3 separate regions of the Homo sapiens genome follow, and all the other regions are linked to region 3. Evidence: fine-mapped expression QTL. A gene starts in region 3. Each other region holds a variant in brackets. All regions are shown on one strand. Distances are between the middles of the regions. Region 1 has its middle 29 kb from the start of CERS4. Region 2 has its middle 24 kb from the start of CERS4. Region 3 holds the start of CERS4 (ceramide synthase 4).

The links. PIP is the estimated chance that this variant, and not a neighbour inherited with it, causes the effect. A credible set is the group of variants that fine-mapping cannot tell apart.
Region 1: its variant is the best candidate, but not a certain one, in a credible set for the expression of CERS4 in lung (GTEx, PIP 0.82).
Region 2: its variant is the best candidate, but not a certain one, in a credible set for the expression of CERS4 in nasal epithelium (TOPMed, PIP 0.50).

What each region holds. Positions count from the first base shown.
Region 1 is chr19:8,178,360-8,182,566 of GRCh38, forward strand. No RefSeq gene overlaps it. Among named protein-coding and RNA genes, the nearest start is that of CERS4, 29 kb to the right of the region's middle. The variant A/G (reference allele first, on the strand shown) is at 2,068.
Region 2 is chr19:8,183,574-8,187,780 of GRCh38, forward strand. No RefSeq gene overlaps it. Among named protein-coding and RNA genes, the nearest start is that of CERS4, 24 kb to the right of the region's middle. The variant T/C (reference allele first, on the strand shown) is at 2,153.
Region 3 is chr19:8,207,679-8,211,885 of GRCh38, forward strand. It overlaps CERS4 (ceramide synthase 4), which reads left to right and starts at 1,692. Exons shown (of 12, transcript NM_024552.3): 1 at 1,692-1,816; 2 at 3,028-3,184. RefSeq lists a silencer at 1,373-2,292.

The sequences.
Region 1 (4,207 bases), 29 kb before region 3:
ATTGAGGCCACATTGAGCTGAGATGGCACTACCATACTCTAGCCTGGGTGACAGAGCGAGACCCTGTCTCAATTAAAAAAAGAAAAGAAAAGAAACAGGCCAGGCGCGGTGTCTCACGCCTGGAATCCCAGAACTTTAGGAGGCCGAGGCGGGTGGATCATTTGAGGTCAGGAGTTTGAGACCAGCCTGGCCAACATGGTGAAACCCTGTCTGTACTAAAAATACAAAAATTAGCCAGATATGGTGGCAGGCGCCTGTAATCCCAGCTACACAGGTTGCTGAGGCAGGAGAATCGCTTGAACCCAGGAGGCAGACAGAGGTTGCAGTGAGCCGAGATTGCGCCATTGCACTCCAGCCTAGGTGACAGAGTGAGACTCCATCTCAAAAAACAAACAAACAAAGAAAACACAAAACTTTTATGGAATTCCAGAATCCTTTCTTCCTTCACTACTTCCTCTACTTTTGCTCTATTTCAAATTATTTATTTTTGACCTCATAATTTTTTGTGTGTGGATGGGTAGGCAGAATGAATTAACAGTACAAATCTTACCTCAAAGACTAGCTATAAAATAAGAAAAAGCGCCAAGCCAGAGTTTGAACTTCCAGGTTATAATACTGATTCTGTCATCAAACAGCTTTGTGACACCAAAGGAGTTTACTAAGTTCTTTGGATTTATTTATTATTATGTTAGATGGAGTGTCACTCTATTGCCCAGGCTGGAGTGCAGTGGCACAATCTCGGCTCACTGCAACATCTGCCTCCTGGGTTCAAGCGATTCTCCTGCCTCAGCCTCCCGAGTAGCTGCGATTACAGGCATGTGCCACCTTGCCCAGCTAATTTTTGTCTTTTTAGTAGAGACGGGGTTTCACCATGTTGGCCAGGCTGGTCTCAAACTCCTGGTCTCTAGTGATTTGCCTGCCTTGGCCTCTCAGAGTACTGAGATTACAGACGTGAGCCACTGTGCCCAGCTGGAAATGGATTTTAAATCTCTGAGATGTGAAAGCATTTTCTAAGCTTAAGAGCAGAGGGCAAAATGGTCAAGCAATGTACTGAGTTGTCTCTCTTTAAAACTTAAAGAGGAATTCTTAGCCAGGTGCTGTGGCTCATGCCTGTAATCCCAGCACTTTGGGAGGCCAAGGTGAGAGAATCACTTGAGCCCAGGAGTTTGAGACCAACTTGGGCAATGTAGTGAGACCACATCTCTGCAAAAAATAAAAATTAGCTGGGTATGGTCGCACATGCCTGTAATCCCACCTACTTGGGAAGCTGAGGTGGGAGGATCACTTGAACCCAGGAGGCTGAGGCTTCTGTGAGCTATGATAGTTCCACTGCACCCCAGCCTGGGCAACACAGTAAGACTCTATCTCTAAAAAAGAAAAGAGAATGAGACATCTTTTGTCTATTTTAATCTAACCTTTTTTTTTTTTTCCTGAAGACTCTTACCCCAGCTTGCAGCTTTTTTTTTTTTTTTTTTTTTTTTGACAGAGTTTTGCTTTGTCGTCCAGGCTGGAGTGCAGTGGCGTAATTTCGGCTCACTGCAACCTCTGCCTCCCAGGTTCAAGTGATTCTCCTGTCTCAGCCTCCCTAGTAGCCAGGATTACAGACACACACCACCATGCCCAGCTCATTTTTGTATTTTTAGTAGAGATGGGGTTTTGCCATGTTGGCCAGGCTGGTCTCAAACTCCTGGCCTCAGGTGATCCACCCTCCTCAGCCTCCCAAAGTGCTGGGATTACAGGCATGAGCGACTGTGCCCGGCCAGCTTGCTGCTTTTAGCATAAATTTCAGGCTTCTGGTGAGCTCTTGGCAACATGTACCAAGAATCATAACGTGTTTGCCTTTTTCCAGCCAGTATTTCCACTGCTGGGAATCCATGAGAAAGAAATATGAGAAATAGGCAAATATTTACATATAACAATGCTTCTGTTATTGTTATTTTAATATTCAGTTAGTGCAAAGCCTGAGGTATCCGGTACGCTGTGTACAATCACGTGATAAGATCCAATATGCAGTTATGAAAAATGTTTGTAGATTTTCTTTAACAATATGTAAAATATTTTCATACT[A/G]TTTTTACAGAAAAAAGCAGGATATTGGGAGGCCAAAGCAGGCGGATCACTTGAGGCAAGGTGTCCAAGGCCAGCCTGGCCAACATGGTGAAACCCCATATCTACTAAAAATACAAAAAATTAGCAGAGTGTGGTGGCACAAGCCTGTAATCCCAGCTATTTGGGAGGCTGAGGCAGGAGAATTGCTTGAACCTGGGAGGCAGAGGTTGCAGTGAGCCGAGATGGCACCATTGCACTCCAGCCTGGGTGACAGAGTGAGACTCCATCTCAAAAAAAAAAAAAAAAGAAAGAAAAAGAAAAATGCAGGATATAGGATAAAACATTTTTTTCTAGATGTTGCCGTAATTAAAAATTTTGTTGCCTATATGGCCAGGAGTGGTGGCTCACGCCTGTAATCCCAGCACTTTGCGAGCCGAGGTGGGTGGATCACTTGAGGCCAGGAGTTCGAGATCAGCCTGGGCAACATGGTGAAACCCCATCTCTACTAAAAATACAAAAATTAGCCGGGCGTGGTGGTGCATGCCTGTAATGCCAGCTACTCGGGAGGGTGAGGCATGAGAAGTGCTTGAGTCCGGGAAGTGGAGGTTGCAATAAGCTGAGATTACACCGCTGTGCTCCACCCTGGGTGACAAAGCAAGACTGACTCAAAAAAAAAAAAAAAAAAAAAAGATGTTTCCTATATAGCAACAGGAAATCTCACTCTTTGCTGAGAGAAATGCCAAACAGTACAGCCACTCTAGAAGACAGTGTGACAGCTTCTTACAAAACTAAACATACTCTTACCATATAACCAATTAATTTCACTCCTAGATATTTACCCAAACGAGTTGAAAGCTCATGTCTACAAGAAAACCCGCACATGGGCCAGGTGCAGTGGCTCATACCCGTAATCCCAACACTTTGGGAGACCGAGGCGGGCAGATCACGAGGTCAGGAGTTCAAGACCAGCCTGGCCAATATGGTGAAACCCTGTCTCTACTAAAAATACAAAAATTAGCTGCGCGTGGTGGCATGTGCCTGTAGTCCCAGCTACTCAGGAGGCTGAGGCAGGAGAATCACTTGAACCCGTGAGGCAGAGGTTGCAGTGAGCCGAGATCACACCACTGCACTCCAGCCTGGGCGACACAGGGAGACTCCGACTCAAAAAAAAAAAAACAAACTGGCCGGGTGCGGTGGCTCATGCCTGTAATCCCAGCACTTTGGGAGGCCGAGGCGGGAGGATCACGAAGTCAGGAGATCGAGACCATCCTGGCTAACACGGTGAAACCCTGTCTCTACTAAATATACAAAAAATTAGCCGGGCATGGTGGCAGGTGCCTGTAGTACCAGCTACTCGGGAGGCTGAGGCAGGAGAATGGCGTGAACCCAGGAGGCAGAGCTTGCAGTGAGCCGAGATGGCGCCACTGCACTCCAGCCTGGGCGAGAGAGTGAGACTCTGTCTCAAAACCAAAAAAACAAAACAAAACAAAACCTGCACACGGATGTTTACAGCAGTATTATTCATAATTGCATAAAACTTGGAAGCAACCAAGATGCCCTTCGGGAGTTGAATGAATAAATAAACAGTGGTACTTTCAGACAATGGGAACTCATTAATTAAAATAAATGAGCTCTTGCTGGGCACAGTGGCACAAGCCTGTGGTCCCAGATACTCAGGAGGCTGAAGTGGAAGGATTGCTTGAGCCTAGGAGTTCCAGGTCAGACTGGGGGACAGAGAAAGACCATGTCTCTAAATAAATTAATTTAAATTACAATATATTTTTTCTTTTCTTTTCTTCTAACACAGAATCTCACTCTTGTCACCCAGGCTGGAGTGCAGTAGTGCTATCTTAGCTCAGTGCAGCCTCCGCTTCCCAGGTTCAAGCAATTCTGCCTCAGCCTCCTGAGTAGCTGGGACTACAAGTGCGTGCCACCACGCCCGGCTAATTTTTGAATTTTTAGTAGAAACAGGGTTCCAACAAGTTTGCCAGGCTGGTCTCGAACTCCTGACCTCAAGTGATCTGCCCACCTTGGCCTCCCAAAGTGCTGGAATTACAGGTGTAAGCCACTGTGACCAGCCTAAAAAAATTTTTTAATTATCCAGGCATGATGGTGCACCTGTAATCCCAGCTACTCAGGGAGGCTGAGGCAGGGGGATGGC
Region 2 (4,207 bases), 24 kb before region 3:
AAGAAAGAAAGAACCCAGTCTCACAAGGCTATCCAGTGTGTGACTGATTCCATTTATACAACAGTCCCGGAAAGGCTAAATTATGGCGACAGAGAGCCGATCAGTGGTTGTCAAGGAGAAGGAAGGAAGGATGTGACTCCTAACGGGCAGTGTAAGGGAATTTTACGGGGTGATGAAGTTGTTCTTTTTCTTTCTTTCTTTCTTTCTTTTTTTTTATTTGAGACAGAGTCTCGCTCTGTCACCCAGGCTGGAGTGCAGTGGATCTCGGCTCACTGCAACCTCCATCCCCTGGGTTCAAGCAATTCTCCTGCCTCAGCCCCCCGAGGACCTGGAACCACAGGTGTGCGCCACCATGCCTGGCTAATTTTTGTATTTTTAATAGAGACGGGGTTTCACCACATTGGCCAGGCTGGTCTCAAACTCCTGACCTCAGGTGATCCACCTGCATCAGCCTCGCAAAGTTCTGGGATTACAGGCATGAGCCACCCCATCCAGCATTTTTTTTTTCTTTTTTTTTTTCTTTTTCTTTTTCTTTTTCTTTTCTTTTTTTTTTTTTCTTTTTTTTTTTTTTTTTTTTTTTTTGAGACAGTCTTGCTCTGTCGCCCAGGCTGGAGTGCAGTAGTGTGATCTCAGCTCACTGCAACCTCTGCCTCCCAGATTCAAGTGATTCTTATGCCTCAGCCTCCCAAGTAGCTGGTATTACAGGCATGCGCCACCATACCTAGGTCATTTTTGTATTTTTGATAGAGATGGGGTTTCCCCACGTTGGCCGGGCTGCTCTTGAAATCCTGACCTTATGTGATCCGCTGGACTCGGCCTCTCAAAGTGCTGGCGTTACAGGCATGAGCCACAGCGCCCAGCCAGATTTTAATTTTTTTTTTTATAGATAGGGTCTCACTACATTGCCCAGGCTGGACTCCAACTCCTAGGTTCAAGCAATGCCGCCTCGGCCTCCCAAAGTGCTGGGATTACAGGTATGAGGTGCTGCATCCAGCCTAAAAAATTGATTTAATGCAAAAAAAAAAAAGAAAATCCTGGTGCCTGACCCCTGGCTGTCCTCAGCTGGCCCATAAGACCCTGATGACTTTTGAGCTCTGAATCAAGGGTTGGCATATCTAGACCTGCTGCAAGCTACAGATACTCAGAACCATGCACGAGGTTGCAAATCCTACATATGATTTCCAGAATCCACATCCCATCTGCACTCTTTCTGGTAGAGCACACCTTGTTCCTGGGGCTCCAGGACAAATGGGTGCATCAAAGCTAACTTCCGGCCCTGGGCAGTGGCTCACGCCTGTAATCCCAGCACTTTGGGAGGACGAGGCAAGAGGATCACCTGAGGTCAGGAGTTCAAGACCAGCCTGGCCAACAAGGTGAAACCCCATCTCTACTAAAAATACAAAAATTAGCTGGATACGGTGGCCCATGCCTGTAATTCCAGCTACTCAGGAGGCTGAGGCAAAAGAATCGCTTGAACCTGGGAGGCGGAGGTTGCAGTAAGCTGAGCTCATGCCACTGCACTCTAGCCTTGGAGACAAAGTGAGATTCTGGCAAAAGAAAAGAAAAGAAAAAAAGCTACCTTCCACCAGCCACAATGGCTCACGCCTGTAATCCCAACATTTTGGGAGCCCAGGAGTTTGAGACCAGCCTGCAGCCTGGGCAACATAGCAGGAAACTCTCTCTAAAAAGGAAGAAAAGAAAAATTCGCCAGGCATGGTGGCGCACACCTGTAGTCCCAGCTACTTGGAAGGCTGAGGTGGGAAGCTGGCTTGAGCCTGGGAAATTGAGGCTGCAGTGAGCTATGATCATGCCACTACACTCCAGCCTGGGCAACAGAGTGGGACCTTGTCTCAAAAGAAAAATAAAAAGTCTACCTTCTACGTGGTCTCTCTGGCTACCTCAGTCATACTGATCCCTTGGCTATACTGATCATTCAGTCACATCCCACTCTGACCCCTGGACTCCCCTGGCCACTGACCTATAGTGACCTGCTCTCTTTGGTCCCTGCAGGGAGACACATTTGAAACCTACAAGTACCCAGGGGAAAAAAAAAAAAAAAGGCCATTACTTCCTTAATCTGTATCTGTTTTTAAGTGGAATTGTATCCATAAGCAACCCAGAGTGCTATTATGTTTCAAATTTATATAAACAG[T/C]ATCACACTAAACTAACATTGCACAACTTGAATTTCTTTTTGAAACAGCACCACATTAAGATACATTTATATTGACATAGAGTAGAGCTGGAGAGAGTGAGAGTGAGAGCAAGGCAAGAGAGAGAAAGAGAGACACACAGACAGGGAGAGTTACTTATTCCTTTTCACTCCTGTTTAATATTCCATTACCTTACCATTACATTTCGTTCTCCTTTCATTTCTCTACTCCCTCATTGATGGACGTTCTGATAGTTTCTTTTTTTCTTTTCTTTTTTTTTTTTTTTTTTTTTTTTGAGGCAGAGTTTTGTTCTTGCTGCCCAGGCTGGAGTGCAATGGCGCGATCTTGGCTCACTGCAACCTCCACCACCTGGGTTCAAGTGATTCTCCTGCCTTGGCCTCCCAAGTTGCTGGTATTACAGGCATGCGCCACCACGCCTGGCTAATTTTGTATTTTTAGTAGAGATAGGGTTTCTCCATGTTGGTCAGGCTGGTCTCCAACTCCCGGCTTCAGGTGATCTGCCCGCCTCGGCCTCCCAAAGTGCTAGGGATTACAGGTGTGAGCCACTGCGCCCAGCCTTTTTTGTTTTTGTTTTTGTTTTTGTTTTTGTTTTGTTAGAGATGGGGTTTTATCCCGTCACTTAGGCTGGAGTGCAGTGGTGTAAACATGGCTGACTGCAGCCTCGACTTCCTGGGCTCAGGTGATCTTCCCACCTCAGGCTCTTGAGTAGCTGGGACCACAGGTATGCACCACCATGGCCAGCTAATTTTTAGTTTTTTTAGAGATGGAGTCTTGCTATGTTGTCCAGGCTGGTATTGAACTCCTGGACTCAAGCATTCCTCCTGCCTCAGCCTCCCAAAGTGCTGGGATGACAGGTGTGAACCACCGAGCCCAACCTAGTAGTTAAGTTTTGAGGAGTCAAAAGTTATATGTGAGGGGCTCGGCACAGTGGCCTGTCATCCCAGCACTTTGGGAGGTGGAGGCTGGCAGATCACTTGAGGTCAGGAGTTCAAGAACAGCCTGGCCAACATGGCAAAACCCTGTCTCTACTAAAAATACAAAAATTAGCCAGGTGTGGTGGCACGCACCTGTGGTCCAGCTATTCTGGAGGCTGAGGCATGAGAATCCCTTGAACCCAGGAGGCAGAGGTTGTAGTGAGCCAGGATTGTGCCATTGCACTCCAGCCTGGATGACAGAGTGAGACTGTCTCAAAAAAAGAAAAAAGAAAAAAAGTTATATGTGGGTCCAGGTGGGGTGACTCATGACTGTCATCCCAGCACTTTGGGAGGCCAAGGTGGGAGGATCACTTGAGTCCAGGAGTTCAACACCAGCCTGGAAAACATAGCAAGACTCCTGTCTCTACAAAAAATTAGCTGGACATGGTGGCAGGTGCCTGTAGTCCCATCAATTCGAGAGGCTGAGGCAAGAAGATCACTTGAGCCCAGGAGGTCAAGGCTGCAGTGAGCTATGATTGCACCACTGCACTCCAGCCTGGGTGACAGAGAGAGAGAGACAGAGAGAGAGCAACGGAAGGAAGGAAGGAAGGAAGGAAAGAAGGAAGGAAAGCGATAAATGAAAAGGAGGCCAGGCACAGTGGCTCATGCCTGTAATCCCAGCACTTTGGGAGGCCAAGGAAGGTTGATCCTCTGAGGTCAGGACTTTGTGACCAGCCTGGCCAACATGGTGAAACCCCGTCTCTACTAAAAACACAAAAACTAGCTGTGCATGGTGGTGGGCGCCTGTAATCTCAGCTACTTGGGAGGTTGAGGCAGGAGCATCACTTGAACCTAGGAGCCGGAGGTTGCAGTGTGCTGAGATTGTGCCACTGCACTCCAGCCTGGGCAACAAGAGTGAAACTCTGTCAAATAAAAGAAAAAAGAGAAGGAAAGAAAGAAAGGAAGGAAGGAAGGAAGACAGAGAAAGGAAGGAAGAGGAAGAGAGAAAGGGAGGGTAGGGAGGGAAGGAAGGAAAGAAAGAAAATGAAAAGGACAAAAACTCCAAAGGACAAATGAGTCTTTCACAAAAGGTGATCTCCAAATGGCTGATAAATGAAAGAG
Region 3 (4,207 bases):
CAAACTCCTGACCTCAGGTGATCCACCCGCCTCAGCCTCCCAAAGTGCTGGGATTACAGGTGTGAGCCACCGCACCCAGCCTCTAACAGATTTTTTTAAAAAAAGAAAAGAGAAGGTCGGGCATGCTGGCTCACGCCTGTAATCCCAGCACTTTGGGAAGCCAAGGCTGGTGGATCACGAGGTCAGGAGTTTGAGATCAGTCTGGCCAACATTGTGAAACCCCCGTCTCTCCAAAAAAAAAAATATATATATATATAAATTAGCCGGGTGTTGTGGGCGCCTGTAATCCTAGCTACTCGGGAGGCTGAGGCAGGAGAATCGAATGAAACCAGGATGCAGAAGTTGCAGTGAGCCGAGATCATGCCATTGCAGTCCAGCCCGGGCCACAATGCAAGACTCCGTCTCAAAAAAAAAAAAAGAAAAAGAAAAAAGAAAAGAGAAACAGTGTAGCAGAGGGAAGGCCAAGTGCAAACGCCAGGAGTCTGAACTTGGAGGGACAGGTTCTTCCACACTTGCAACAGAGGTCTCCTGCCTCCCTGACCGCCCCGCCCCCCGCGCCCCTGTCTGTGTGAGGAAATCAAATCTCAGCTTGCCTAGGGCCCTGTGGCAGGGAGGCCCCAACTTCACCCCATGGGTCTTGGGTCTGCTGAGCTGAGTCAGAGAAAGGTTTATTATCCCCATTTTACAGAGGCTTATTGTCCAAAGGCGAAGCCACTTGCCCAGAGTACATGCGGTGGGCCAGCGACTATGAAAACCCCTGGGGCTGTCCTCTGTTCAGGGATCGCCCAGGCTCCCTGCCCCTGCGCGCTGCTGAGACTGGGTCATTTTCGGTTCTACCAGGCAAGCGGGGGACCCAGCCCCCACTGCTGCTGCCCTCAGCCAAAACCAGGGCTGCGCCACCACCCACCCGGCCTATCTCCCATCTTATCTCCCCAGCTCTGTCGCCTGACCCCTGCACCCCACCAAATCGCAGCCTTTGCCCGGTGCCCTCACCGCCTCGGTTGGCCCCCGCGCGCGCCTCGGGCGAACCCCTGGACTGGCCCTCCAACAGGGCCCCAGACTCGGGGTACCCAGGGTGGCCGCTGAGGCCTGGAGAAATCTGGGCCTCCCCTGTGCACCATCCAACTGCGCGCCCCAGAGGCTCAGGGCGCCCCGGGAGTGTGGGGGTGTGGACAGATGAGCAGAGCCAGAGCATCTCGGGCAGAAGAGGGGACCTGGGAGGGGGCCGGGGAGACAGACAGCGAACAGGGGTGAAGCCGGGGCCGGACGGAGCGCGCAGCGGACAATACTGGGTTCAAAGGGGAGAGATAAGGCGCAGACTAGAAACGCTAGGCTGGACCCGGGCCAGGCGCGCCGCGGGGCAGAGATGGGCGGAGCGGGAACGGGGGCGGGGGCGAGAATGGGGGGGCGGGGACGGGGGCGGGGATGGGGTGCGGGTGCGGGGTCGGGGGCCAGGGAGAGGCCTAGTTGCGTCGAGGGGGGCAAGCGCCTGGAGGACCCGGCGCCCGCTCCAGGCCCTGCCCCTCCAAGTCCCCCGCCCCGCGCCAGGCCCCGCCTCTCCAGGGCCCCAGCCCCGCGCCAGGCCCCACCGTTCCGGGGCGCGTGCCCCGCCCAGGCCCCGCCCCCACGGCCCCGCCCCGGGCTCCCCCCACTCAAGCCTTTTTTCCCCTGCTGGGGGCCGAGGCCCGGCCAGGAGCAGAGTCCGGCTGCCTGGGGCGGGCGGCGCGTGTCTGCAGCTGCTCCGGGTAGCCCGCTAGGCGCGCCGTCCCCAGCCCCGCCGCCGGCCCTCGGTGCGCCCGGCCGCCTGCACCCCCAGGTAAGCGAGCACCCCGCGCCGCGAACACCGCCCCGAACGCCACCCTCACGGCGGTCCCCGGCCCCGCCTCCGCGGCCATGGCGGCCCCAGCCCGGCCCCCACTCGCAGCTGGGCTCCAGCCCCCATCACCCCGCCGGGGACTGTCCCCCTCGGGGCTTCCCATCATGGCCGTCTCCCCGAGCTATCCGCGCTCCCCCACGAGGGCCGGGGCGCAACGGGTGCCCGAGGACGCGGCTGTGAAACGGGCTGGAGCGAGTAGGGGCGATCCTGGCCTCGTGACGCGGGGGAATCCGGATGTGTGAGCCGGGGGAGCGCCCCGTTTCCCCGACGTGCCAGGGCTGGGGACGCAGCTGGGGCCCTGGCCTCGGAGTCCGCAGCCCGGCCGCGTAGACGGCTTCTGAGAACCGCTTAAACACGTCATTCCAAGCCCGAGCTAACCCATCAGGCGGCCGGGGTGAGGTGGAGGTGCCCAGGCGGGGATAATGTCATTTGGCCTGGTTGGACCAGCCAGCGAGGGCTTTTTAGGCCCAGGGCCTAGCCGGGAGTGTGTGCGGAGCAGAAAAGAGGCCAGCCTGGCTGAAACGCGGAGAGGGAGGGTCTGAGGTGGAGAGAGGTTGGCCGGGGCCTGGGAAGCGGCGAGGAGAGTGTGGAACCCGTTCTCGGGGCGGTGGGGACCAGGGAGGCTTGGAACAGCAGGTGCATGGCGTGATCGGATTGTGTCTTAAGAACATCCCGTAGCCGCTGTGGGTAGGAGAGATGGGGATACTTGGAAGGGGGCTTCTGGCTTGACCTGGCTGGAAGGTGTGATAGGAAGTGGGTGAACTGAAAATTCGCTTTGGCAGAGTAACATCGTCTAATTCTGTCTGTTTGCAAGTGGAGCGTGGGGGACCGATGTTTCTCCTGGGTAGTTAGGAGTATATAGAAGAGGCTTTCATTGCTGGGTTGGGAGACTTGAGGAGAAGCTGCTCTGGGGGACACAGGAAGGTGGGCAGGGGGAGAGGCTGTTGTGGTTTGCAAAACCTACCAGATGGGGGAATGCTCCCATCGACTCCAGTCTGAGCTCAGGCAAGGTCTCAGGCATCTGAGCGCAGAGGCCAGGGTGACCCCACTGGGGCGACCTGGGTCTGTTATATGGGGATAGGGTTCCTGGACTGTGGAATTGTCTTTGAAGCCCTCGGCCTCCCCCAGCCTCAAATGGGTCTGCCTTCCAGGAGCAGCTGCTGTGAATAAACACAGAAGTGGAGCTGGGGGACTGATTAGAAGCCTCATTCAGTGCACCTGGGCCCCAGCAGGCCCAGCCAGGCGTGGAGGAAGAGGCATTGAGGACTTTCCTTACCTGTTTTTCCAGCTCACCCACTGCCAGCAGAGGTACTTTGAGCCTGGGGTGTGGGGGGTGGGGGGCGGCCTTGGTCGTTGAACTGGCTGTAGGGCCCCCAGGGAAAGGTTTCTGAGCTTCAGTTTACCCATCTGTAAAATGGGTCAGTAGTATCTGAGCCTGGGAGTGTTCATGGATCGATGAAAGCCGAGGCTAGGCAGATCTCGGTGGCAGCCACACCCCTAAGGAACCGGAGAGGGTTCTAACGCCCGGTGGGAGTTCAGGGGGATGTATGGGCTTCCATTTCTCCTCTGAGAAATTCACAACAGTGTCCACCTCCTGACCCAGGGCTGTCTGCAGGTTGAATAAAGCGGTTGACCCAGTGCGTGGCACAGAATGTCTTGGCTCAGGAGCCACTGGGATGCCTGTAGTTGGCAGCAGAAGTGGGCCCAGGTTCCCTCCTCCCACCCGTGGGATGGCACAGAAAGGCAGGTGCCTTGGGAGCTCGCTGCCCTGTCCCCTTCTCTGAGCACCACAAGCTTCTCCCTTTCCGACTGGCTGGGCTTGAGCCTGACCACCCCCCAGCCCTGTCCTGCCACTTTGAGTTGAGGGCCTCCGGGCTACTGACTTCACCACTTCCTGCTTCAGTTTCTCCACCTGTAAAATGGGATAATAGCAGTCATGACCTATAGGTAAAGAGCTGAACACAGTGCCTGGCTGGTTGTGAATACGTGCTAAACAGGCTATTAAAATATCACGAGAATATCACAGAGCTGGAGGCTATTAAAATATCACGGAGGGGCTGGGCGTGGTGGCTCACGCCTGTAATCCCAGCACTTTGGGAAGCTGAGGCAGGCAGATCACCTAAGGTCAGGAGTTCGAGAGCAGCCTGGCCAACATGGTGAAACCCCATCTCTACTAGAAATACAAAAATTAGCCGGGCGTGGTGGCATGTACCTGTAATCTCAGCTGCATGGGAGACTGAGGCAGGAGAATCTCTTGAACCTGGGAGGCAGAATTTGCAGTGAGCCGAGATCGCGCCACTGCACTCCAGCCTGGGCAACAAAGTGAGACTA